3 separate regions of the Homo sapiens genome follow, and regions 1 and 3 are each linked to region 2. Evidence: fine-mapped expression QTL. A gene starts in region 2. Each other region holds a variant in brackets. All regions are shown on one strand. Distances are between the middles of the regions.

Region 1 (8,177 bases), 270 kb before region 2:
CTGGTGAGTAATGTCAGGCTGTCTCGAGGTTAAACCTTAAAAGAGAGGCTCCATTTCTCCACAAGGAGCAGGCCCAGCTTAGGGTAAAATGTCAGAGATATAAGACTCTCTCTGCCATCCTGATCCTCCGCATCCCGGCCTCTCTCCCACTCCCACTCTATCAGCAGTGTCCCGTCTCTCCTCTTTAGCCTGCCAAAGCTTTCCTCTCTCTTCTTCCTTCTCTACTTTCTCTCAGGACTGAACCAAGAACTCACTCACACTGAGGCCACTACTAACTGACAACAGCCTAAAGCACTGTATTTGAAACGTTTTTTCTCCCACCTTGATCCTCCAAGTCAGAAATACATTTTTCAGCAAACTCAGTACACACATACTGAGTCAAAAGTTTTATGAAACAATACTATGCACAATATATTTAAGTTTTTTGTATGTGTGATTTCTTGATTGTATTGTATGTGGTCTAATTTTTTTTCAATTGCTGGTTGCAATCCACTACATTGATTTCATGATCCACAAATGAGTTACAGCCTGCAATTTGAAAAGTCCCTGGCCTAAAAGAACCTTCTTTCTAAGCACAGAAAGTCCCTGGGAACTGGTTGTCAAGACAGTTTACCCAGATTTTGGATAATAGAGCAATTTCTTTGTGCCAGGCCCTGTTCTGGGTGCTTTATGTATAATAGTTCAGTGAACCCACACAGCCCTTCTATGAGGTAGATGTTATTGTGATCATCATTCACATTTTATGGGCCAGGAACCTGAGGCAAAGAAAGGTTAAGTTCCTTATCTAAGCTCTTACTGCTAGTAAGTGGCAGAACTCAAGACGCCGTGTGTTTAACCATTGGGCTCTGCTGCCTTTCAGGGTGTCATAGAAATAAGGTGGCTTTGCAGAGGGATATACATGATGCTCTAAGAAAGCCTATAAGAAGTCCCTGTGGTCAGAGCAGGACTCAGATGCTTCTGGAAGGCAAGCTTGGTTTGCATGTTGTAAAAAACCTGCCAAACAGACTGGGCTCTGAGAACTTACCGCCCAACAGACGCTCAAGCTCGACTGCCCTGTGGACGCACATAGACTGATGGCGATGCCAGTGGGGACGACTGAAGCCCTTGGGGTGCATGTTAGGCCCACATGTAGAACTCTGCCCACTGGCCAATCAGCAAGCAGTACCGAAGAAAAGCCTGACTCTGGTCTTTACAAAAAAAAATACTGCCGTTAATTTTAAACACACCTCTTTTTGCAGGCTAAATAGAAAAGTGAGCTTAATCTACACTCTTGCTGTTCTTTAATGAATTTATTGTTTTAGGCTCTGTGAGAATGCAATAAAAGTTAAAAATGTATTTCAGAACACAGTGCAAATGTGTCTCCGCATTTGATGGATTGCTTTTGAGTCCAACACTTCCGGCCCGTGGGCAGGCAGGCCCCACAGATGGGCCGCGGCATCTACGAGCAGAGCGAGAGTGCGTCTATAAGGGATGGTCGTGGGAGGCACACACTTATCAGATTTCATTTCTGTTCTCTTCTCTTGGCATAGTAGCTGGAGAGTGGTAAAATGGGAGATGGAGAGACAGTGAAACAGCTGAAGTAGCAGCCTCAATTATTTACAGACCAGATTGTCAGCCTCCCAAAAAATGAAAATTGACCTCACATCTCTCTTCTCCTTTTCACAGCTGGGAGGGTCAGGCACATTACTATTGGCCACTCTCAGCATTGGCCATTCTCACCTCCCCATCCCTCTGCATCCTCAGCTAAGCTCAATGCAGAAATTCAAACGCAAGGAACAGGCCCTGCCCTCAGAGAGCCCCCATTCTGATGTGGGAGAGAGGGCAGAAGAGTTCAAGACCCAGATCGTTAACAAGGGAAGGCACAGGCATAGGACAGAATGTATGTAGCCGTGGGCACTGTAAGGGGCATAGCAGTTGAATAGCAGCCTTGTCTAGAGCCTAGATGTGGAATATTGCCCAAGAGTTGCACTTTGTAAACTGAGTCTATAAATACCAAGAGAATGTCGAAGAGAAGCTATTGAAGCCAGGTAGAGTTAGGGAAGGATTCTTAGAAGAGGTCAAACGTGAAGGGCAGCAGTCATGGAGAAGGTGCTTCATCTGAAGGTAGGGCCCAGTCAGTGCCTTGAAGCGGCAACCAAAGACTAGGAAAGCCTAAGCCAACATTTCTCAGTCCTGTTGGGGACTGCGCCAGCCACTGCTCTAAGACCTCGCTGCCAGGCCTGGCAGGTGGCCAGCCCAGGTGTCCAGGTGCCCAGATGCCCCACAGCAAGCCAAGGCCTCAATCCTCCCTTCACTTGATTTTCTGTGAGCCTTGCTTGCCAGCTAAGGTGTAGGGCCCTCCTTAGCTGTGGACGCAGAGCCAAGTTAAGTCGCCATGGTAACCCTCTGGCTGATGGGGACTTGGGTTGCCATGGAAACTTGTCTAAAATCAAAAAGTATTTTGGAAGAGGGGTTGCAGCAGAGAGGAAGGGTGGTGGGGGATGTCTGCCGCAGTGCCGCACTACCCATGATTCTGTTCTGTGCCCTTCTTGGGTTCCTCCTGGAATGAGTGTGTGTTGGGGGGGGTTGTCCAGGGCCCAGCCCAGGGCTTCTAAGAAATAGTCATTGCTGGTACCAGGAGCCCTCCTGGAGGCCCTCCAGCAAAACATGTATGTTAGGCCATTCTTGCGTTGCTGTAAAGAAATACCAGAGGCTGGATAATTTATTTAAAAAAGAGGTTTAATTGGCTCATGTTTCTACTGGCTGTATAGGAAGCATGGTGCAGGCATCTGCTCAGCCTTCAAAGGAGCCTCAGGGAGCATTTACTTATGGCAGAAGGTGAAGTGGGAGCAGGCTTGTCACATGGTGACAGAGGGAGCAAAAGAGAGAGTTGTGGGGGTAAGTGCCACACAATTTTAAATAACCAGATCTCACGAAAACTGGCTGGGCACGGTGGCTCACACCTGTAATCTCAGCACTCTGGGAGGCCGAGGTGGGCAGATCACTTGAGGCCAGGAGTTTGAGACCAGCCTGGCCAACATGGTGAAACCCAATCTCTACTAAAAATACACACACACATAGCTGGGTGTGGTGGCGCGCACCTGTAATCCCACCTACTCTGGAGACTGAGGCAGGAGAATTGCCCGAACCTGGGAGGTTGAGGGTGCAGTGAGCGGAGATCGCGTCACTGCCTGGGCAACAGAGTGAGACTCTGTCTCAAAAAAAAAAAAAAAAAGAACTCACTATGGCAAGGATGGCACCAAGCCATGAGGGATCCACTCCCATGACCCAAGCACTTCCCATCAGGCCCCACCTCTGACCTGGGGATGACCTTTCCACATGAGATTTAGAGGGAACGGCCTCCAGACTACACCAGGTACCAATCTGTCCACCACCATGTCACACCAACATGTCCTCCATTTCCTTGGTGAATGCTTGACAGTATCTTTCAGTGCCAAATCTGCTCCTTGACAAAACCATAAAAGCCACAAAGTTAATGTCCTACTGCTGCCTGTCCCCTGCTCCTGAGATCCCTGCCCCGGGATCCTCCATGCTTATCGTCTCCTTTCTGACCGGGCACTTCTTGTCACAAGGCCAGGGCTGGCCAGCCTCGTGTAACCTCAGCTTCCTCTTCACCATGGTAGAGAGATAAAAGTCCCTGCTTTTAGACAGTGCACTTAGCCTGCTCAAAGGAACTGCTCCATAAACACTACTATTACTTACCATTAACTTACAACAAAAAATGAACCAGGCACTTGGTAAGGTGTTTGTATTTTACTCATCCCAGAGGAATTTGCACATTTAAATATCGTCTCTTTCCCTCCATCTTCTTCCCCAAGTTACCTTTCCTGAAAGTGGGATGATGTTTAAAACAAAGCGATGGAATTTGAGGGGTACAACCCCTACAGTTCTGTCCAAATTCACTTCTCTAAACTCATGTTCTCCCTCCACTCCACCCTAAACCCTGGCCTCCTGAGGCAACGAAGTTTGCCTATCTGGAACCATTTTCTGAAGCTGGATGGCAGACGGGGAGCCTCAAGAGGGAAGAAAAGAATGGCAAACTTTTCATTGGCCCAGTGGCCGGCCTCATAAATCATCATTCATAATTAGAATTATTTATTCCCAAATCACCATCCCAAGCCCCAGTTTCCCCTGTACCTAAAGCTCTTTTCACTTCTAGTTCAAGAGAGTCTTGCCCCCTCTCTGCGTCTCAAAAGTGATCTCTTCTCTTCCTCTAAACTCACCTGAAGCTTTCACCAAGTATGCTGGCCGGTTCTGCTTCCTACCCTATTGCCTACCAAAAGGAGATAATTCCAGCCCCTCTTTCTGAGATAGGGTGTTAATGAATCCTTACTGAGGCACAGACCTCTGGCCTCCTGCAGAGAGGTCCTCCTGGAAGTGCCCTGGGGACTCTGGAGACCTGGCCTCCCAGCAGCCACTCCCTCTGCTTTTAAGAGGAAGCTTTAGCCTGAGAAAGTTTGACTCCTTCCTGAAAGCTGCACTTATTTCAGCCAGGCTGGGCTCAGGTTTCAGGGCTCAGGGACTCTTTCTCTCCCTTTCTCCTTCCCAAGACTGAAATGCAGCTGCCCAGAAGTGCTGAGGAGGACACAGAGTCGGCTTCCTAGGCACAGGCCCAGCTCTGTCCCCTTTCCTTGTGCTGGGACCTT[C/G]AGTGGAGGGGAGGAGTCAGGGAGCCTCAGGGAGGCAAAGCAGGCCACACAGCGAGGGAAGCGGCTGGGGAGAGCTGACTCGCAGGAAATAGTTTCACCCCAGTGGTCCAGGCTGGGGTTCCCGGTAGCTCCTCCACCATTCTCCCCGCAACACCCAACCAGCTCTGCTTTTAAAAGGTGAACACAATCTTTCAGAAGCTGCAGCCCAAGCCCTTTCTGGCCCTGGCGAACCTTCCCCATTCCCCTCTTGCCAAACATTTTTATACCAAAATAATTAGATAATTAATAATCATGTCAAATACTGTGTTTCTGGCACTCCATACTTTTTAAGCTTTGGAATCTGTGTGTAATAGATCTAAATAGCAGCCCACAAACTTGGCCAGGCAACAAACATCCCATTCTTGATTGTCTTTAAACCAATGTAATTCTACTTCTGAGCCCCTACCCTCCTGAGTGGCAAGACATTTCAAGTCAGAATTACTGGGGTCTGGTTGGGCGCGGTGGCTCATGCCTGTAATCCCAGCACTTTAGGCGGCTGAGATGGGTGGATCACTTGAGGCCAGGAGTTTGAGACCAGCCTGGCCAACATGGTGAAACCCTGTCTCTATTAAAAATACAAACATTATCTGGTTATGGTGGTGCGTGCCTGTAATCCCAGCTACCCAGGAGGCTGAGGCAGAAGAATCGCTTGAACTTGGTGGGTGGAGGTTGCAGGAGCCAAGACTGTGCCACTGCACTCCAGCCTGGGCGACAGATTGAGACTCCATCTCAAAAAAAAAAAAAAAAAAAGAATTGCTGGCGGCTGGCATCCTTTCCCCCAACCCCAGGCTCACCCCAGGTCCAGAAGGTCTGAGCAAAGCTTGGAAAACAGGAAAGGACCACTATGTTGTGATCCCTGCAAGTTTCCTCAGTGCCTCTCCAGTTCTGTGCCATGGGACATGGACTTCTTTGCCAAGGCCAGCAGCCTCTGCCCAATGTCCCTTCCTCCTGTTTACCCCACCCCGTCCCCCTCAGGGTGTGGGAATGCATCTGACTGCTTGCTCCTGGGACTCACGGTGCTTTTTTCATTTCTAGTTCAGGAGAGCCTTGCCCACTCTCTGCTTCTCAAAAGTGGTCTCTTCCCTTCCCCTAAACTCACCATCTTTTTTGTTTGTTTGTTTGTTTCATTTCTGAGATGGGGTCTCCAGCCCAGGCTGAAGTGCAGTGGCATGATCTCCGCTCACTGCAACCTTCGCCTCCCAGGCATGGGCGACACTCCCACCTCAGCTTCGTGAGTAGCTAGGAACATAGGCATGCGCCGCCACGCCTGGCTAATTTTTTTTATTTTTTGGTAGAGATGGGGTTTCACCATGTCACCCAGGCTGGTCTCAAACTTCTGAGCTCAAGCAGTTTGCCCACCTCGGCTTCCCAAAGTGCTGAGATTACAGGCGTGACCCACCATACCCGGCCAAACTCACCTTCCTAATAGCCTGAAGCTTTCACCAAACATGCTGCCCCATTCTGCTTCCTATTCTGTCCAATGTCCCCGAAGTTTAGAGTTTTGAAACCTGGTGACCTGCTCAGAATGGGAGCTGGGGAGTGGAATTACACAGAGGGAGGCACCATGAATTAAACATCTCAGAAATGTATCCTGCCAAATGTGATTGCATTTTCGCACCACCCTGATAAAGTAGGTAGGACAAATATTAATATCCCCAAAAGGTAAATGAGGGAGCTACGTTATGAACTGACTTGGCAGTGAGTTTGTGGAAATACTAGAACACAAGTCCGGGCCTCCTACCTCTCAACGTAAGCTGCTGCTGCCAAAGCAAGCCTTTCTGAACTTTCCTGAAAGCTGCTGATAGCGCTCCAATGGCTGGTGTGTTTCAAGTGCTTATTGTGTGCAAGAAACTGAACTAAGCACTTTATGAGTAATAGTTTGATCAGTCTTTACTCCAACTCTTTGAGGTAGGTGCTCTTGTCCCCATTTTACAGATGAGGGTGTTGAGGCACAGAGAAGGCAAGGACTCCGCTGGAAGTCACAGAGTTGATAATTGCCACAGCCAGGATTTGAAACCTGCACTCTTAACTCCTCTCCTATAGTGAGTTTCCTAGTAACTTCAGCCCCTTCAGCGAAGAAGAAAGGAGTGATAAAGGAGTAACTGTATCAGCAATTTTGTTTAGCTTTCTGACTTCACCCAGCCTCCAACAAAAGAGGCTGCTTTCCAAAGTCCCAGGCTGCATTCATCCCTGCAAATTCATTGTTTCTTACCACCCACTCACCACCACAACGAATCTCCCCACAAGCTCAAACTCAAGGACACACCTCCCTCTGTCTGTCCCCCCTCCCAACCCAAACTCAACAGCATCAGCTCTGAGAGAAAAAGTCGAAGGAGGAAGGCTCCCACCAGAGAGCCCGTGAGGCATCCAGTGGGGTGGAGAGGGGTTTGGCAGCCCCTCCCCTCCATCTGCTTCCAGCTGGGACACAGGATGCTAGGGAGGGGAGGCTCCCGTGGAGACAAAGGTCGGGGAGCCCAGAAGGGAGGAGGTGGTTAGGATGCTGGGGGTTTGGAGGTGGGGCTATTTACTGGGGGGGAGACAGCAATGTGCAGGAGTTACCCAAATGAAGCCCCCTCCTGCCTGACTGCAGCGGGGAGCCAACCTCCTGAGCCTGCGGGCAGAGAGGCCACAATTAAGGCAGAGGGAGGCCAGCTGGCCCTCAAAGCACCTTTCTCTTCACAAAACCGGCAGTGGTCTCATTTACAACTCATCTCCCAAAGGGCTTGGAGGTGCTTGGAGAACCAGAAACCCTGGTCCTCTAATTACCGGTGTGCATCTGGGAAAGTGAGTCAGCCACGTGAAAATGAGCAGCCCAGAGCTCCTTCCACCCCTAAAGGGCAAGGTCCTGATTTTTCCATCTCAGACTGCCTGGCACCCCTGAGGACCCCCTCTGCTGAAAGCTGTTTGTAGGTAACCTTCTCTGTGGTTTCTATAGACCTCCTCCTTCCTCTCAACATCTCCCTTCTGAACCCCTACAAACCAGTTATTGAAATGTATGGTGCCCTTACTATGTACCAAATACTTATTCTATTTAATAACTCTGCACATTGCTGTCTTCCCCCAGTCACCAGATACTTCACGTGTCTTAAGTCCTCATGATAGGCCGACAAAGTTGAAATTATTTTTGTCCTCCTTCTGCAAATGAGGAAACTGAGGCAGAGAGGTTGAGTAACTTGCCTGAAGTCATCCAGCTAGTAAGTTTTGGAAAGGGGTTTTGAACAGGTGTCTGGTTCCTGGCCACTGCACTCTGCTCTCTCAGGGAGGCTTTGCTTTGGAGTGATGCAAAGAGGGATGTGGGGCATGGAGCATAGGTTTGTCATTCCTATATAAATCATAATACTTGTAAATTATTTGGAATTCTTCTGTATGAGAGACTTGTCTGCTCTCCCCCATTTATTCAGTGATTGATTTATATCACAATGTACTCATGGGAGTGTTTATCTTATACTCTGAGTTATAATTCAGTACTATGTATGTTAGTCTGTTCTGCAT
Region 2 (8,177 bases):
TGTTTCATCTATATATACCCCCACCCAGATTATTTTAAGGCTAATTCCCAAAGCCAATAAATTTTTCCCATAAATATTTATGTATTTATGTCTAAAAGAAAAGAATCCTTTAAAAAGTATATCTGCAATGCCATTATCACACCTAAAAGAAATTAATAGAAATTCCTTAACAGCATCCACTATCTAGTCAGGATTTACTTTCCCTAATCCACACTTAGTTTTTCTAGTTATGTTCCTACTCATGGGGGCAGGGAGATGAACATTTGACAGAAGACTATTATATCAGCCAATATAAGAATTTGTGGTCTCTGCTCTGTAGCACTCTCTGATGGTTCTATCCATGTGTGTTTTGCATGGAATCTAATTGGATTACAAATTCTTCAGGGCAGGGACTGACATTACTGTCTTTTTTGCACCCTAGTATGGCAGAGAGGAAGAAGCACTGATCTCAACTAATTAGCTGTGTGACTTTGGGAAGGTTATTCAACCTCTCTAAGATAATAGGAATAAAAATACACATCTCCCAAGAATCGTAAGGCTTAAAGAAAAGGTGAATGTGCTCGGCATGTAGAAGTTTCTTAGTAAATGCTCATCTTGCTTTACTCTCTGTTTTGACCACTTTTCAGTTCCTCACATGGAGTGAAGGCCACCGTCAGTGAGGGCTGCAGCCAGGCCAGCAGCCTGGAGTCCACCTGCCCCCAGCACGGTGCTGTGTCTGTGGTGTTGGTGGTCCCCACTCTGAGCACCCAGGGGTTGCTTGTTTACTCGGGCCACTCATTAAACTGACAGGTGAGGCTTGCACAGCCCTCAGGAAACTGAGGGAAGAGAGGGGCTGGACAGGAGTAGAGATTTGCTTTCGGCCCACTTCACCGGTTTCTGGGTTCCTTGACTCAGATGAAGTAATAATTTCATAGCTGGCCTTGACTGAGTGTTTATGACACGCCAAGCTCTGTGCTAAGTGCTCTACCGCAGCACCGCTTTTAGTGTTCACAACCCTGTGAGATGGGTACTACTATCCATATTTTGTAGGTGATGAAACTGAGGCTTAGATTAGGTAACTTGTGACTTACACAGAGACACCATTACTCAAACCAGGTTTTTCTAATACTTAAATCCAAGTTCTTGGCCACACACTCACTATTTTGTTAATGGTGCCAAAGAAGCCACCTTCTAGGGTTCATTCTCACCCAGATTTACAGAGATGACTTCTGCCCAGGCTCAGCATGCACCCCGAACTCCAGCCAGCCATTATGCCAATGTACGTCCCTGGACAGGGTGAGGAAGAGTGAGGGGATCAGAACAGCCTACATCCACAAGGGAAAACCGGACCTAAAGGCATCTCCTTACATCAAGGATGTACACACAAACACACACACCACTTCTATTTCTTGACTCGGGCTCTGTCCGCAGAACCAAGTGTGGACCTGGCAGGGGTGAGAGAGGTGAGGCAGGGGAGGAGACACTTGTCACGGTATTAACTGGCTGAATAAAAAGTCTATGATAGTGAAATTTCCAGGAACAGGAGAATCCTTCACACTCTTGCTTGTGATTAGACTGCTTTGTTTGACTTCAGCCTCAGGAGTACCTTTCTGAGCACTGGAAGCTACCGGACACAAGGCAGTCATGGGCCCAGAGCCTGCGACTGGGAGTGGGGAAGAGCAGAGTCAACGATTTCCAAGGGTGCCAAAGCCTTTGGCTGCATTTCATTTCTTTCTGTATGATTCCTGATAGCTGTGTTGGGGTACCGGGCCCTCACAGTAAGTGCTACCACTTTTTCTGTAAATGTTTTGGTTTTATTTATCATTATCATAGCTGCATCTGGGGCAACCACCTTGTGCATACAGGACAATAAATTCCTGAGCCTCCTGGCTTCCCTCCTTCCTCCCTCCTTCTCCCTCTTCTTGGCAAAGGCTTAAACATAGGTGGTGGGGCGGGGGGGGGCGGTAGGGACAGAGACAGAGTTCCAGCTCCTCTTTGCTTCACCCCCTTCCCTCCTCCTCCCTTCTTTCCCATTGCTACACTAAAGGAGTCAGGGCTGTGTCCACCAATATGCTCTGTGACTAGCAGTCAACACAATTTCATACCCAGCCAGTCATTCCGCAGGCATTTTGGATGATAATGTTCCCATTCTCAGTTCCTCTGTGAGAATGTGCATGTCATTTGAAGCTCTGTGCCTCAGTTTCCATAGAAGTAAAACAAAAAGCAAGAATTGAGACTGATCTTTTTCTTGCAAGAATTCACAAGTAATGGATAATGTACAAGAGATGTGGCTGAATAAGAGAACTAGAACAAAGACTTGAACAATTTTCCTATGCAACACTCTTTCCCATGGACAAAGGTATCCCACAAAGTCATACTTCATCGGAGGCTAGTTTGTCCAAAGAAAACTCACATACCAATGCAATAGTGACAAAAAAAAAATTCCTCCATGCCAACTCAGGAAAACAGAAAGCAAGTTGTGCTTAAGCCCATTGTAGGTGTGGGCAGATGCTTCCAAAACCGTCACCCCTTTTCCCTCCTCTATGACTATCTTCAACCCCCAGCAAAGCGGCCTCGCCAGCTGCTAAAGGGTTAATTACCAAAAAGAGGGCATGCTCCCTCCAGAGGCTCCTCTGGAGAGTGCAAAAACAAAACAAAACCAAAAACCAACTAACCACAACAAAAAACATCTTCCCTGGGAATAAATTTGAAGCTTATCAGGTCTTTAAGCCACATTTCCCAGCCCATAGACTCCTGGTCCCTGTCTCCCTTTGCTTTGGGAAACTCATTTACCCCCAAGCCTCCTGAAATGATCCATGTGCCGTGAGATGCCCATAGGGTTGGGGACTTGAAAATGAGTTATTCTCCCACAAAAAATGGCTTAGCTTTGTCTTTTTGGGTGGCTGACAGGAGACATAAAGTATCACTCTCTCTTTTTACCCCTCCTCACAATAGGATGGAATGAGTGTGGAGAAAAACAAAGGTATTGTGGGACCAGGATGGAGTCAACTTGACAATGGACTCTTCAAGGACACCTTCCAGCTCCCATTCTACTAGTAGCTCTATTTGATTTTGTGGGATGTTGTGTTCCTCCAACATATCCGACTTCTGCTTATAAAACAGAAATTAGGAGTAAGAGATTCGCACCGCTAGTTCAGTGGATAATCATCAGTTCTGAAGCATTAAAATCCTTTGCCAACAAGAACGTTTCTTCTAAGGAAGGAAGCATCCTAATCATGAAGCCAGGGTCTCCAGCCCTCCCCTGTCTCCCTCCTCCCCTCCAGGGCTGTGCTCACTCACATCCATGGACATCTCCCTCTGCATAAGTTTCTTGGTCTCCTTTTCACAGAAGTTGAGCATGGCCTCCCGGTTGTACACACCCGTGGACTGTTTCTCCGTCTGGTTTCTCTGCCGCAGCCCCACGGGAACACTCCCGTCTGGGTCCACCACGTCCAGCTCCTTCTCCAGCTCCTCCATCTCCTCGGGAGACAGGGTCTCCAGCAGGCTGTCGATGTCGGGGTCTTCACTCACCTGCCGGCGATATTTGGCTACTCTAGACATCTTGGCAAAATGGGCTGTGGCTGCCAGGGGCTATCAGAGTCCTGGTGGGCAGGGAAGGGAGAGGGGTGAGCTGATCTGGATGCAGCGAGTGGGCTGAGGAGCAAACCTCCTGCTGGTCGAGGACTGCAGCTCCTTGGCCCTTCTGTGCTACAGGTGCTGAAGTGTTCACTGGACGCAGCAGCCTCCCTGAAGCCCAGGGCTAGTGGACCCCGGCTGGTCTAATCAGCGGCCAATAAGACCCGACAACTGCCAGGCCCGGAGAGGAGAAGCCAATCCCCAAGCTGGGGGCGGGCCTACCTCGCTGTCAGAGCTGTTTGAAACTTGAGGACATTCCAGGGAATCTTGGAGCGCTGCGTGACCAAATTTAGTACAGAGCAGTTTAGCCTTTTAAAGACAAGGGGCCACGCAATGAGAAAAAGATACAAAAATGCGTAGGCTGGCAGAAGCAGATCACAGCCACGGAGAGCCAGACAAGCAGGGACGAGGCCATGAGGGCCGGTGAACTCGCCAGCCCGGGGCACGTTCAAGAGCGTATTTTACTACTCCATCACCGGGTGGACGTATCACTGTGGTCAATGTGTGGTTCATGGACTTCCTTCTACAGTATTTGGTAATGTGCTGGGGGGCTCCCAGGTGTATACAGCTCCAGGAAAGTCTAGATTCAAGATGAGGAGCTGTTACTCCTAACCCCCTGCCTACCCATTTTCTTTCTACCCAGGTTCTGCCAAGGAGGACCTGAAGGCTGAGCATCAGAGGCTCCAGGATCCTTTGGCCACTTCTTAAGAGAGAGACAGGAGACAGAAAGACAAACTTAGAGATAGAGATAGCTAGGCAGGAGAGGGAGAGAGAGAGAGAGAGAGAGAGAGAGAGAGAGAGAGAGAGAGAATAAATCCTTACTGTGTACCAAAACTGAAAACTGGCAGGCTGTTTGGGAAAGAGAGAAGGATCTGCAGAAGTCGGGAAACTCTTAAAGGGCTGTCACTTTCCATGAAGTTCCAAGGCTCTTGGGAAGAGGGTTCAAACCTCCCCCTGTTGTCATCTGTTTCTTCCTCTGCCGGGCATCTGTAGACAGACCTCCTTTGGGAGCACAGAGGCAGGTCACCACCCACATATAAATCCAGAGCACGATTTAGTATGTCTTCAGGGAAACAGAATTCTGGGCCGTCGGGAGAGATACGATTGCAACAGGTCTGGCATGTTTCATAGAAGGGCTTTCCACTGCTCATCCATCATGCTGCCCTGCACAAGTCACAGAGACATTCAATCCCCTGCCCCCCTTCCTCCTGCCACAAAATCCCTTCTAGAAGCCCTGGTGTAACCCATCAGGGTAGATGCTTCGATCTTTCCTGGCATCTTTCCATCCTAAGCCAGAGAGAGACAGTCACTTGATCAGCATTTGCTGAGTCCAGGGATCGTCTGGGACTAAAACTTGGCCGTGCCATTTAATGTCCACTAGTCCAACTTTAGGTTAAGGCTGAAGAGGGGAATGGTGTCCACTGGGGGGACTGAAGGGCAGAAGGAAGGCAGGCAGACTTGATAGGAAGAGTGGAAGAAGACTTTAGGGAAACCTGGGGGTTGTCATTTTAAGAGTCAGTAGCCAACTTATTGGTCAAACCGTAGGTATATATTTATTGAGTGATTTATCAAGTGCCTATTATATATCAGGCATTGTTCTAAGAGCAAGAGATATCACTAAAGATACAAAATCAGGCCAGGTGCAGTGGCTCATGTCTGTAATCCCAGCACTTTGGGAGGCCAAGGCAAGAGGATTGCTTGAGTCCAGGAGTTCAAGAACAGGCTGGGCAACATAATGAGACCCCCATCTCTCCAAAAAAAAAAAAAAAACAAAATTAGCCTGATGTGGTGGTGAGCATCTGTTGTCCCAGCTACTCAGGGGGTTGAGGTGGGAGGATTGCTTGAGACCAGAAGGTTGAGGCTGCAGTGAGCTGTGATCACGCTACTGTACTCCAGCCTGGGCAACAGAGTAAGACCCCATCTCAAAAAAGAAAGAAAGAAAGAAAGAAAGAAAGAAAGAAAGAGCGAGCAAGCACAGGGGCTATGGGAAAACACAACAAGAGGAGGCTGAATAGAAGTATGATTTAACAGTGAAGAGCTTGGGCCTTTGAGGCCAATAGACCTGTATTTGGTCCTGGTATTGCTACTTACAGGCCATGTGACTTGGGCAAGCTACCTTCTTTTCTGAGACTTGAGTTCATCATCTGTAAAATAAGGACAACAGTTATACCAACCTTATACAATTGTTGTGAATATTAAATTAGGTCCTACACATGACAACATTTCATTGATATACCCAGTACATGGTAAACACCATATTTATTATTAATTATTATAATTATTTATTTATTTATTTATTGGGAAACTCTGTTTCACTCTTATTGCCCAGGCTGGAGTGCAATGGCGCGATCTCGGCTCACTGCAACCTCCGCCTCCCGGGTTCAAGCAATTCTCCTGTCTCACCCTCCCAAGTAGCTGGGATTACAGGCATGAGCCACCATGCCCGGCTAATTTTGTATTTTTAGTAGACATGGGGTTTCTCCATGTTGGTCAGGCTGGTCTTGAACTCCTGACCTCAGGTGATCCACCTGCCTCGGTCTCCCAAAGTGCTGGGATTACAGGCGTGAGCCACAGCGCCTGGCTATAATTATTTATTTACTCTTGTCCTGGGTTCTTTTCTTCCCATCCCACCTTTTCTCTCATCTTTTTATTTCTTTCTCTCAAGAGTAAACACCCTCTAAACACACACACACACACACACACACACACACACACTTTCTCACCTGGTTCTCATTCATTCATTCAAACATTTATTCAGATACTACTATTTATATATAGCATCCTGCCAGGCACTACAACATTGTCATTACAACATTGTTATTCTCTTAAACATGTATAATTCAATGGGGTAAAAAATAATAATAACTACACTGTAAGGCAAAGTGAAGCAAGCTAGAGAGGTACAAGGAGTCTTGCAGAGAGGTCCAACTGTTAAAAAACCCAGTGGAAGACACATTAATTTTGTGGGGAGGAGTCAGGGTGGTCATCTCAGAGGGCATAACAAAGGGTTTCAGCCATGCTGGAGTGGGCTTTTAGTTAGGTATGTTGGGTGGACATGGCACTCCCTATGCCCATCCCCTCCCCCTGTACCCCCTTTGGGTCAGCTGGCCTTCACCCTCAGTGTTGCCCAGAAAAAAGCATCATCTTCTGGGGTCCCTGGCTCTAGGACCTCAGCCAACCTCTAGCCTCCCAGTCAGCTGAAAGCAATTCTCTTTCTAGTTTCCAAGGACTCTTTCTCAGGCTTTTTGCCAAAAATATTCACTGCTCCCTGAGGAGCAGTCAGGGCCTAAAAGCAAATCACTACCTTCAGCCCCAGGGTTAGCCCTGTACCATCTGGTTTCAGTGGTTTTCTTTTTTGGGCCCAGTGGTCTCTGCTCCAGGAAGACACTCAAAAAAATAAATCCATAGCTTTCAAATGTAAAGGGCAGGACTCATGCCTCCTAACCAAAGGTTTCTACACATTAACCCCAGTATCTTCTCTGTGTCAGGTCTCCCAATTCCAAATCGCTGGTTCTTCTGACATGACTCAGTCAGAAGCTTTTTACTCCCTGGAGCCCCAAGAGCTCCCTGACACTGCTCACAGACTCCAAAAGTCTTCCCTTGAAAGGCATCACAGCTGGAGCTGGAGGATTTGGGAACCCAGAGGCCAGGGAGTACAGCCACCTCCAGCCCCTACAATGAGAGGCCACTGCCCGACCCACTCTGTAGGGAGCACTGGTTGTTCCAGCTCAGAATCAACTTCCACCTGAAACAAATCCATCCTGGGTATCAGGACCCTGGCCGTTGTCTATTCCCCAGAGAAAAACAAGCACTGTTGTCGCTAGAGGGATGGGGAGAGAAAAGAAGGAAAAGAGACTCAAAGCTCCAATCAAAATGTGGTGCAGGGCAGGAGGGAAGAATGAGGATCCAGAACCAATTTAATTAATGCTTAGGTGGCTCTCAGTTGGGCTGAATGACCCCAGGAAAGTCACATTTTCAGGAATATAGGGTGGCAGTATAGTATAGCAGATAAGACTACAGGCTCTGGAGTCAAATGACATGGGCTCAAATCTGAGATGTGTGACCTTAAGTAAGTTATTTAACCTCTCTGAGCCTTAGGCAATGGAAAATGAGGATATTAAGAGCATCTACGAGCTGGGTGCAGTGATGTGTGCCTGTAGTCCCAACTACTTGGGGTGCTGAGGCGGGAGGGTTGCTTAAGCCCAGGAGTTTGAGTCCAGCCTAGGGAAAATGTGAGACTCGTCTCTAAAACAAAACAAAACAAAACAAAACAAAACAAAACAACAACAAAAAACCAGACCGGGCATGATGGCTTATGCTTGTAATCCCCACATTTTGGGAGGCCGAGGAGGTGGGATGAATGTTTGAGGCCAGGAGTCAAGATGATCCCAGGCAACAGAGTGAGACCCCATCTCTTAAAAAAAAAACCTTGTCCAGGCACAGTGGCTCACATCTGTAATCCCAACACTTTGGGAGGCCAAGGTGGGCTGATCACTTGAGGCCAGGATTTTGAAACCAGCCTGGCCGACATTGCAAAACCCCACAAAAACTAGCCGGGTGTG
Region 3 (8,177 bases), 29 kb before region 2:
TGTAAATTATACATAAAATGTATAATTTATGTAGCTTGTTTATCTATTCATCCATTGATAGACACTTGGGCTGTTTTTGGCTATTGTGAATAATGCTGCTATGAACATATCTGTGTGGGTCCTTGCTTTCAACTCTTTGGGAGTGTAGATGGACCCAAAAGTGGAACCGCTGGCCATGAGACCCAAATTCTGACTTCTCTGCACCACCCACCTTGACTGCTTCACCTCTTGTTCTATCCAGCACGTCAGTCATCACCTTGCCAGTATCCTCAACCCCAGTCACACGTGCCAGCCAAAGCCCCAACCCTACAGCCAAAGCACTGACTGCAGGCCTGTGTGGCTCCTCCTCCCAGGTGCTGGGCTATCTGGGGAGAGTAGCCCACACCCCACGTGGTGCCGTCCACTGTCTGCAGCCCCTGTGAACCCTAACACTCACAAGTGGCGCCAATGCTGAGGACCAGCTTGAGAGTCAGAAGGCCAGGGTTCCACACTTTGCTCTTATGTCAACATGGACAGGTTAATTTGCCTTCCTCATCTGTAAAACGGGGATCACATCTGGTACGGGGCGGTATTAAGGCTTCATTGAGGTGAGTGGATAACACATCCACTTCCTGTGGCTGCACAGGAAGCTTTCAATAAAAGGTAACTGTCATTATGGGTCTAGCTCTCTCCTGGTTCTTCATAGCATCTATCCGAATTCTTCTCCCTTCTCTTAGTATCTCTCGTCCCACTCCACCCCTATTCTTGGCAGACAATCTCCTCTAATTTCTTCCCAGGCAGACAGAGGAAACAACCCATGGCAATTCTCCAACTTCCTGCCACCTCTTCTACAAACTCACCTCCAGGCTCATCTTTCACCTTCCCTCTCCTCCTGCCCAGGCTCACCCCTCCCCACGCACTCTGGTGCCCACCCCTCCTCCCCACATTGCACTCCCGCACCCTCTTCCACAGCCTTAGCCTCTCCCTCTTTCCTGGCCCCTTCCCACCACCCTTTAAACCTGCCCATCTCTCCCGGTTAATCAGATCCTCCTTCTGTCCACAGTCCCTTCCAGCTGTAGCGCCAGCCTTCCCGTATACCCAAACTTCCTCAAAGAGCTCTACTTTTTGATCCGTATTCATTCCTCAATCCAACACACTCTTGCCTCACCCCCAACATTCCATGGAAATTAGTTTCATCCAGATCACTTCTGACCCTCCTGTCACTAAGTCGGATTTATCTTTTATTTCATATATTGCTCAAACTGCGTGGGAAGCATCTGGCGCTATTGGCCAGGTCCTTCCTTCAAAACGCTTCCCCATCGGTTTCCACCGCAGCCTTCATGGCTTTCCTCCTAGCTCTCTGATAGCTCCTTTAGGCCTCCTTCAAGGACCCTCTTCCTTGAGACATGTGGGTGTTGGCAAGGTCTTATTTTAGGCCTCCTTTGTTTTCACCTTTAGAGCCTCTCACCGGATTATCTCATCCATTCTGATGGCATCAGCTGCATTCTACGTACTGATGTCTCTCAAAGCTGGATCTCTGGGCCAGACACTACTAGGAAGGTAGTACCGTCTAATGAATATCTTGGTTTGTGTGCCCCAAAGTACCTCAAAAACTGGACTCCTTATCTTCCCCCACTGCCTTGCCGACCCCTGCACTATTCCCTATCTGGGCAAGTGGCTCCTCTAAACACCCAGTGACTCCAATCAGAACCCGGCTGGGAAGAGGAAAGGAGGGATCTGTGGGGAGGCAACGTGGACCCCTCTGCACCCCGCTCTGCACTCACTCACCCTTCCCTACCAGTAGCCCAAGTGATTTTGGGGGAAGGCTGGGAAATCGACCTATTATATACTCCCTCGTTACCTGCACACAGATACTACAGCCTGAACCCCACTCAGATCAATCCCTCTCCTCCATCCTCACAGATGTTCCCTTGGTCCAGGCCACTATCACCTCTCATGGGGTTATAGCAACAACCTCCTCTCGGTTTCGCTGACCTCCTCCAGGGCGATCCTTGCACGGCAGCCCCAGGGACCTTGCTGAAGGCCAGACCCATCCGAAGCCTTTCAGTGTCTAATGTCTGAACTTTTTTTTTTTGATACAAGGTCTCATTCTCTCCTCTGGGCTGCAGTGCAGTGGTGTGACACGGCTCACTGCAGCCTTGACTTCCTCCAGCTTGTGATCCTCCCACCTCAGCCTCCTAGGTAGCTGCTACTACAGGCATGCACCACCACACCCAGCGGATTTTTGTATTTTTTGTAGAGACGGGGTTTCGCCATGTTGCCCAGGCTGGTCTTAAACTTCTGGGCTCAAGCGATCCACACACCTTGGCCTCTCGGAGTGCTGAGATTACGGTGTGAGCCACCACACCTGGCTTGAACTACTTTTATGATCAGAAAAATACAACAAAGGCACATCTATTCCAGGACTTTGGAAGGTCAGGGTGAGGGGAAGCTGGAGCCCAGGAGTTCAAGACCGTCCTGGGCAACATGGTGAAACTCCATCTCTACAAAAAATACAAACATTAGCCAGGCGTGGTGGCATGTGCTTGTAGCCCTAGCTACCTGGGAGGCTGAGGTGAGAGGATCACCTGAGCCAAGGGAGGTCGAGGTTGCAGTGAGCCGTGATCATGCCACTGCACTCCAGCCTGAGCAACAGAGAGAGACCCTGTCTCAAAAAACAAAACAAAACAAAACAAAACAAAAACCAACAAAAGCTGTTTTATGAAAAAGAAACAAAATTGTCTTTAAATAACTGAGTTTCACAGCAAAAACAAAACAAAATTAAAAACCAAGAGGCATCAGGCCGTGGTGTGGGGAGGAGGGATGGATGGGGCCAGAGGTGGGAGGGAGGGGATTCCCCGTCACTGTGCTCAGTCTTCAGCCCGGCTGTGCTGTGCCCAGGACCTGCCTCGCAGCCTGACCTTCGCCTGGCTCTGTTCCAGCAATTACACATCAGCCCCGGTGATAAACATCAGTGCTGAGCAGAGGGCCAAAGGGTCTCAGGCACTGCCTCCAGCTCCAGCATAAACAGAAACGCCATGATTCATTTTTACCTCCCAAGATGATCTCCAGGGGTCGGAGTGGCGCAATGGCAGCCAAGAAAAGGGCAGCGGTTTGTGAACCTGGGAAAAAAAGGGCATTTTCTGATGCAGTCCTGCGGGAGACCAGGCTTTACAAGAGGAGTGAACGCCACCATCTCAGGGCCTGCTCTGTCTTTGTAGGGAAGGGGAGCAAAGAAACCTTCTGGAAAAGACAAGGATAATGTGCAGATGTGGGTGGCTGGGCACTTACACTGCATGTGTCACCAAACTCTGCCAAGGCTGGGAGGGTTCTTGCCTGCCTTGAGTCTTTAAGGACCAGGGTTTCTAGTGAAAGGGATGGTAAATGGGGGAAGGTGGCCTGACCTCAAAAGCCTGCCAAGAGCCATCAAGAGGCACCAGAAAGGAAGGCACGGTGAGCGGTGTCTGTGTTTCACCTAGGCCCTTACCCCTACCACCAAGGCTTCTGCATTCACTGCAAGTAGAGAAAGACAGAGGCGTTTTGAGGTGAGGGCATGCAACACAGCCTGCAATAGCTAAGACTTCACAGTCAGCGCCATTCTGGCTTCTGCCTGGGGGTTATGCAGAACCCATCACTAGGGGGATGAAGGTTCTTGTGGCAGATCTTCTCGGCCAATGAAGGGTCAACTCCATTGCTCTCAGCAGAACTAAATGCTTTGCCAACTGGTCTGGTGACTCATACTGGGAAGCTTGTAGCAAACCCCATTTTTGGAGAAACCGGGAAATCTCTTTGGGGAGA[TA/T]AACAAGTCACTGTAGCACTCTGCTCTCTGAAGTGCCTGGCTAGTACTTTCTGCTTCTTCATTTTATCCCAGCACCAAGGAAAACCCAAGCAAGTCTGGGAAATGTTGTAAAGATCTACACAAATGCAAGCTATTTGTCCCAGGCTTCTGGGTCCCACTTAGGTCCCGGAGGGTGGCAGAAGGAACATACTGTTCTTTTACTGCCTGGGGCTGTGAGCAGGAGGCCTGGCTTTCATACAGCCCCTCTCCTGTTCCTTCTAAACAGAAAAGGGTACATTGGCTAAAGCAGGAGCAGCTTTATGGTGTCTGACCTCTGCAGTGCTCCAGGGCCCCATGCTCAGAGGGCCCTACGCTTGGTTTAATTCTCTGCTGTCATCGTCTTGAAAGTTTTAGTAATTCTTGAGCACATTTTCATTTTGCGCTAAGCCCTGCAAATTCTGTAGCCAGTCCTAGGCCTAAGAGGCCAGGGATCAGGGATGGTGCAGCTCTCTGTCTTCCCGCCTTCTCCCTCTTCAGGAATGGCTCTCCCACCCCACAGACACTGGGACATCAGCCTTGACGCTTCCTTTTTCCCTCACCACGTTCCCTTCATCCCACCTTCCTAACATAGCTGAGATTAGCTTCCTCACATCCCCTCACCATTGCTGTGTTTGCGGCCTCCATCATCTCTTGCCTCCCCACTGAACCCCCTGCCTCCTGTCTTCCTTCTCTTTGAGTGCACTCTGTCTCCAGAAAGACCTTTCAAAATGTGATTCTGATCCATGGCTCCCATGCTTTCAGGATGAAGTGCAGACTTTGTAGCATGGCAACAAAGCCCTCCGTGACCTGGCCTGTGCCTGCCTCTGTGCGCCCTCCCCTTCCTGCCTGCACTCTGGTTACAGTGAGGAACAGCCACGCTGGGCTCTCTTGGGTCTTGCTGCCCTACCCCATGCTGGGCTCTCTTGGGTCTTGTTGCCTATGCATGCTGCTCCTGCCACACAGGATGTCCTCTCGCTTTCTTCTCTGCCTGGCTAACACTTCTTCTTTTGTTCCTCCTCCTTCTTTTTAACTTTATATGTGGAAAAGTTCGACTGTACAACAAACTAGAGAGAACAGCACAATGAACCTCAAGGTACCCATTGCCCAGCTTCAGCGATTCTCTACATATGGCCAATCTTGTTTCATCTGATGCCCACCCATTTTTGTCACAATCTCACATTATTTGAAAGCAAATTCCAGGTGTATCATTTCATGCATACATATTTCAGTGTGTACTCTATTTCTTTTTTAGGGACAGGGTCTCACTCTGTCACCCAGGCTGGAGTGTAGTGGTATGATCATAGCTCACTATAACCTCAAACTCCTGGGCTCAAGTGATCCTCCTGCCTCAGCTTTCCGAGTATCTAGGACTACAGGCATGTGCCACCATGCCTGGCTAACTTTTATTTTTGTAGATCTGGGGTCTTGCTATGTTGCTCAGGCTGGTCTCAAACTCCTGGCCTCAAGCAATCCTCCCGCCTTGGCCTCACTTTTGCTGGGATTACAGGTGTGAGCCACCATGCCTGGCCTCAGTGTGTATCTCTAAAAGACAGAAACTTTTTTTTTTTTGGGGGGTCAGAGCCTCAGTCCTTCACCCAGGCTGGAGTGCAGTGGTACTCACTGCAACCTCCGCCTCCTGGGTTCAAGCAATTTTCCTGCCTCAGCCTCCCAAGTAGCTGGGATTACAGGTGCCCACCACCATGCCCGGCTGATTTTGTATTTTTAGTAGAGACGGGGTTTCACCATGTTGGCCAGGCTGGTCTCAAACTCCTGACCTCAGGTGATCTGCCTGCCTTGGCCTCCCAAAGTGCTGGGATTACAGGCATGAGCCACCACGCCTGGCCCCTTTTCTTCTTTTTTAACCTGACTCTGTGTCAGAAAGCCCATTTGGTCCTGTTATTCCCAGGGACTGTATAAAGCAAGGTGACCCCTTCTCTTCTATGTGAGTGCTCTGTAGGTATTGGGTCCTCTCCCTGAGGCTGCTTTTCTGTGGGCTAGAAAAGTTCATCTGTTAGACTAAGCCTGCCATTCCAGCCTGACTAGAATTTTCTAAATCCTGGTTCTGCTGTTTAAAAGCTCACTGTGACTCTCAGCTTCAGATAATCTGCCAGTGTGGTACATGTGCCTTCTGGATCTTTTTGTCCACTAACCAGGGCAGACTCCAGGGCAGAACTCTCTGGTATCCTACTACAGGCCTCCAGGGAGCCACCAATCAGCATCCACCTGCATCACCTTCCAGTCCACATCTCTCCATCCTGGCCACTAAACTATTGTAAGCAGCCTTTTTCAGTGTCTTCCTAAAGTCTCCAGAAGAGCCCAGGACTTCAAAGAGTAGAAGGAATATATTGGCTTCAATGCCATCTCCACCCGCCACTGGCTCTCTCTCTTTTTTTTTTTTTTTTTTTTTTTTTTTTGAGACCAAGTTTTGTTCTTGTCACCCAGGCAGCTGGGGTGCAATGGCATGATCTTGGCTCACTGCAACCTCAACCTCCGGGGTTCAAGTGATTCTCCTGCCTCAGCCTCCCAAGTAGCTGGGATTACAGGCACCCACCACCACGCCTGGTTAATTTTTGTATTTTTAGCAGAGACAGGGTTTCTCCATGTTGGCCAGGCTGGTCTTGAACTCCTGACCTCAGACGATCCGCCCGCCTCAGCCTCCCACCCACCATTGACTCTCTGACTGGGGATTACTACCCCAGTAAAATGACATACTTTCCCAGGCCTTGTGAATTGTTCTGGAAAGACATCATGCTACAGGGTCAATACAACTCCTAAATGCAGCTCCCTTTTAGCAGCTGAGGCCCTTGGAGACACCGGTTTTTCCTATGCCAAGGCCACAGAGACCAGAATTCCACTTGCTTGCTGAGGAAGTCAATCATAGTTGAGAAATAGCTGAGGAGTAAGCTGAGTCTTTAAGCTCAAGGACAATTAGGAGGTGGGTCTGGATATTCTACTGGAAGGGAGAAAGAAAAGCCAAGACCTACTGGGAAGACAGGGAGCAAACAAGGATGTCAAGCCATTAAATCAAGGAGGCCAAGTGGCCTCTACACAGTGCAGGACCCAGCGAATATAGAATAGGGGGTGGGAGGCTGGGCGCGGTGGCTCACGCCTGTAATCTCAGCACTTTGGGAAGCCAAGGCAGGAGGCTTGCTTGAGCCCAGGAGTTTGAGACCAGCCTGGGCAACATAGTGTGACCCTGTTTCTAAAAATAAAAATAAATAAATAAATAAAAAAGTAAGAAAGAAGAGAAAAAAAGAAAGGAAATGATGAGATCTTGGACCAGGCTGAGCAGTGAACACAGAGGAGTGGAGATGCATTCCATGGACATTTCTAGGGTACAGTTAATAAGATTCAGTGAAGTGGACAATGCCGAGGAGAAGTGGAGGATGACTCCCTGATTTCCAGTTTGGTTGCCTGGTTAGAGAGTGATGCTTATAACCATGGCGGGGAATATGGAGCGGGGAGATGAGGGTGGCACTTGAGATGATCAACTGTTTTGGCCATGACAAAATTTAAATGCCTAACAGGTTGGCATTAATAAAGATCTGGGCTGGGCGCAGTGGCTCACACCTGTAATCCCAGCACTTTGGGAGGCTGAGGCGGGCAGATCACGAGGTCAGGAGTTCGAGGCTAGCCTGGCCAGCATAGTGAAACCCCATCTCTACTAAAAATACAAAAATTAGCTGGGCATGGTGGTGCGAGCCTGCAGTCCCAGCTACTCGTGAGGCTGAGGTTGGAGAACTGCTTGACCCCAGGAGGTGGAGGTTGCAGTGAGCTGAGATTGCACCACTGCCCTCCAGCCTGGGCGACAGAGTGAGACTCCATCTCAAAAAAAAAAAAAAAAAAAAAAAAAGATCTGGGGCTCAGAAAGGAGATCTAGGCTTGACAGGTAGGTTTGGGAGTCATTGGTGTATACGTAGCAATGAAAACCACGGGAGTAAATATGGTGACTCTGAAAAGTGAGTTATCAGGAAGAGGAAAGGGACTTACAGAATAGGTCAAGAAAATCACCGCATTATGGCCGGATGCAGTGGCTCATGCCTATAATCCCAGCACTTTGGGAGGCTGAGGCGGGCGGATCACGAGGTCAGGAGATCGAGACCATCCTGGCTAACACAGTGAAACCCCATCTCTACTAAAAATACAAAAAATTAGCCAGGCGTGGTGGTGGGCGCCTGTAGTCCCAGCTGCTCGGGAGGCTGAGGCAGGAGAATGGCGTGAACCCGGGAGGCAGAGCTTGCAGTGAGCTGAGATCATGCCAGTGCACTCCAGCCTGGGCGACAGAGTGAGATTCCATCTCAAAAAAAAAAAGAAAAAGAAAATCACCACATTATTTAATGAAACAAAATCCATGCCCTTTGAGATTGGCAAAACCGTGATG

Direction of the effects. Positions count from the first base shown, and alleles are read on the strand shown. Sizes are in standard deviations (SD) of each study's normalised expression. Not every link is listed here.
With allele TA in place of T in region 3, the expression in tibial nerve of the gene that starts at base 3,748 in region 2 is higher (small effect, 0.23 SD a copy in GTEx).

What was found.
Region 1: its variant is fine-mapped to the expression of LMOD1 in whole blood (INTERVAL, PIP above 0.99).
Region 3: its variant is fine-mapped to the expression of LMOD1 in tibial nerve (GTEx, PIP above 0.99). The same link has a PIP of 0.9 or more in atrial appendage, lung, sigmoid colon and subcutaneous fat.

The regions. Positions count from the first base shown.
Region 1 is chr1:201,671,835-201,680,011 of GRCh38, forward strand. All of the region lies in intron 5 of NAV1 (neuron navigator 1), which reads left to right. Among named protein-coding and RNA genes, the nearest start is that of MIR5191, 44 kb to the right of the region's middle. The variant C/G (reference allele first, on the strand shown) is at 4,647.
Region 2 is chr1:201,942,801-201,950,977 of GRCh38, forward strand. It overlaps LMOD1 (leiomodin 1), which reads right to left and starts at 3,748. Exons shown (of 3, transcript NM_012134.3): 1 at 3,280-3,748. The coding sequence starts at 3,540.
Region 3 is chr1:201,913,864-201,922,040 of GRCh38, forward strand. All of the region lies in intron 1 of LMOD1 (leiomodin 1), which reads right to left. Among named protein-coding and RNA genes, the nearest start is that of LMOD1, 29 kb to the right of the region's middle. RefSeq lists an enhancer at 346-846. The variant TA/T (reference allele first, on the strand shown) is at 3,778.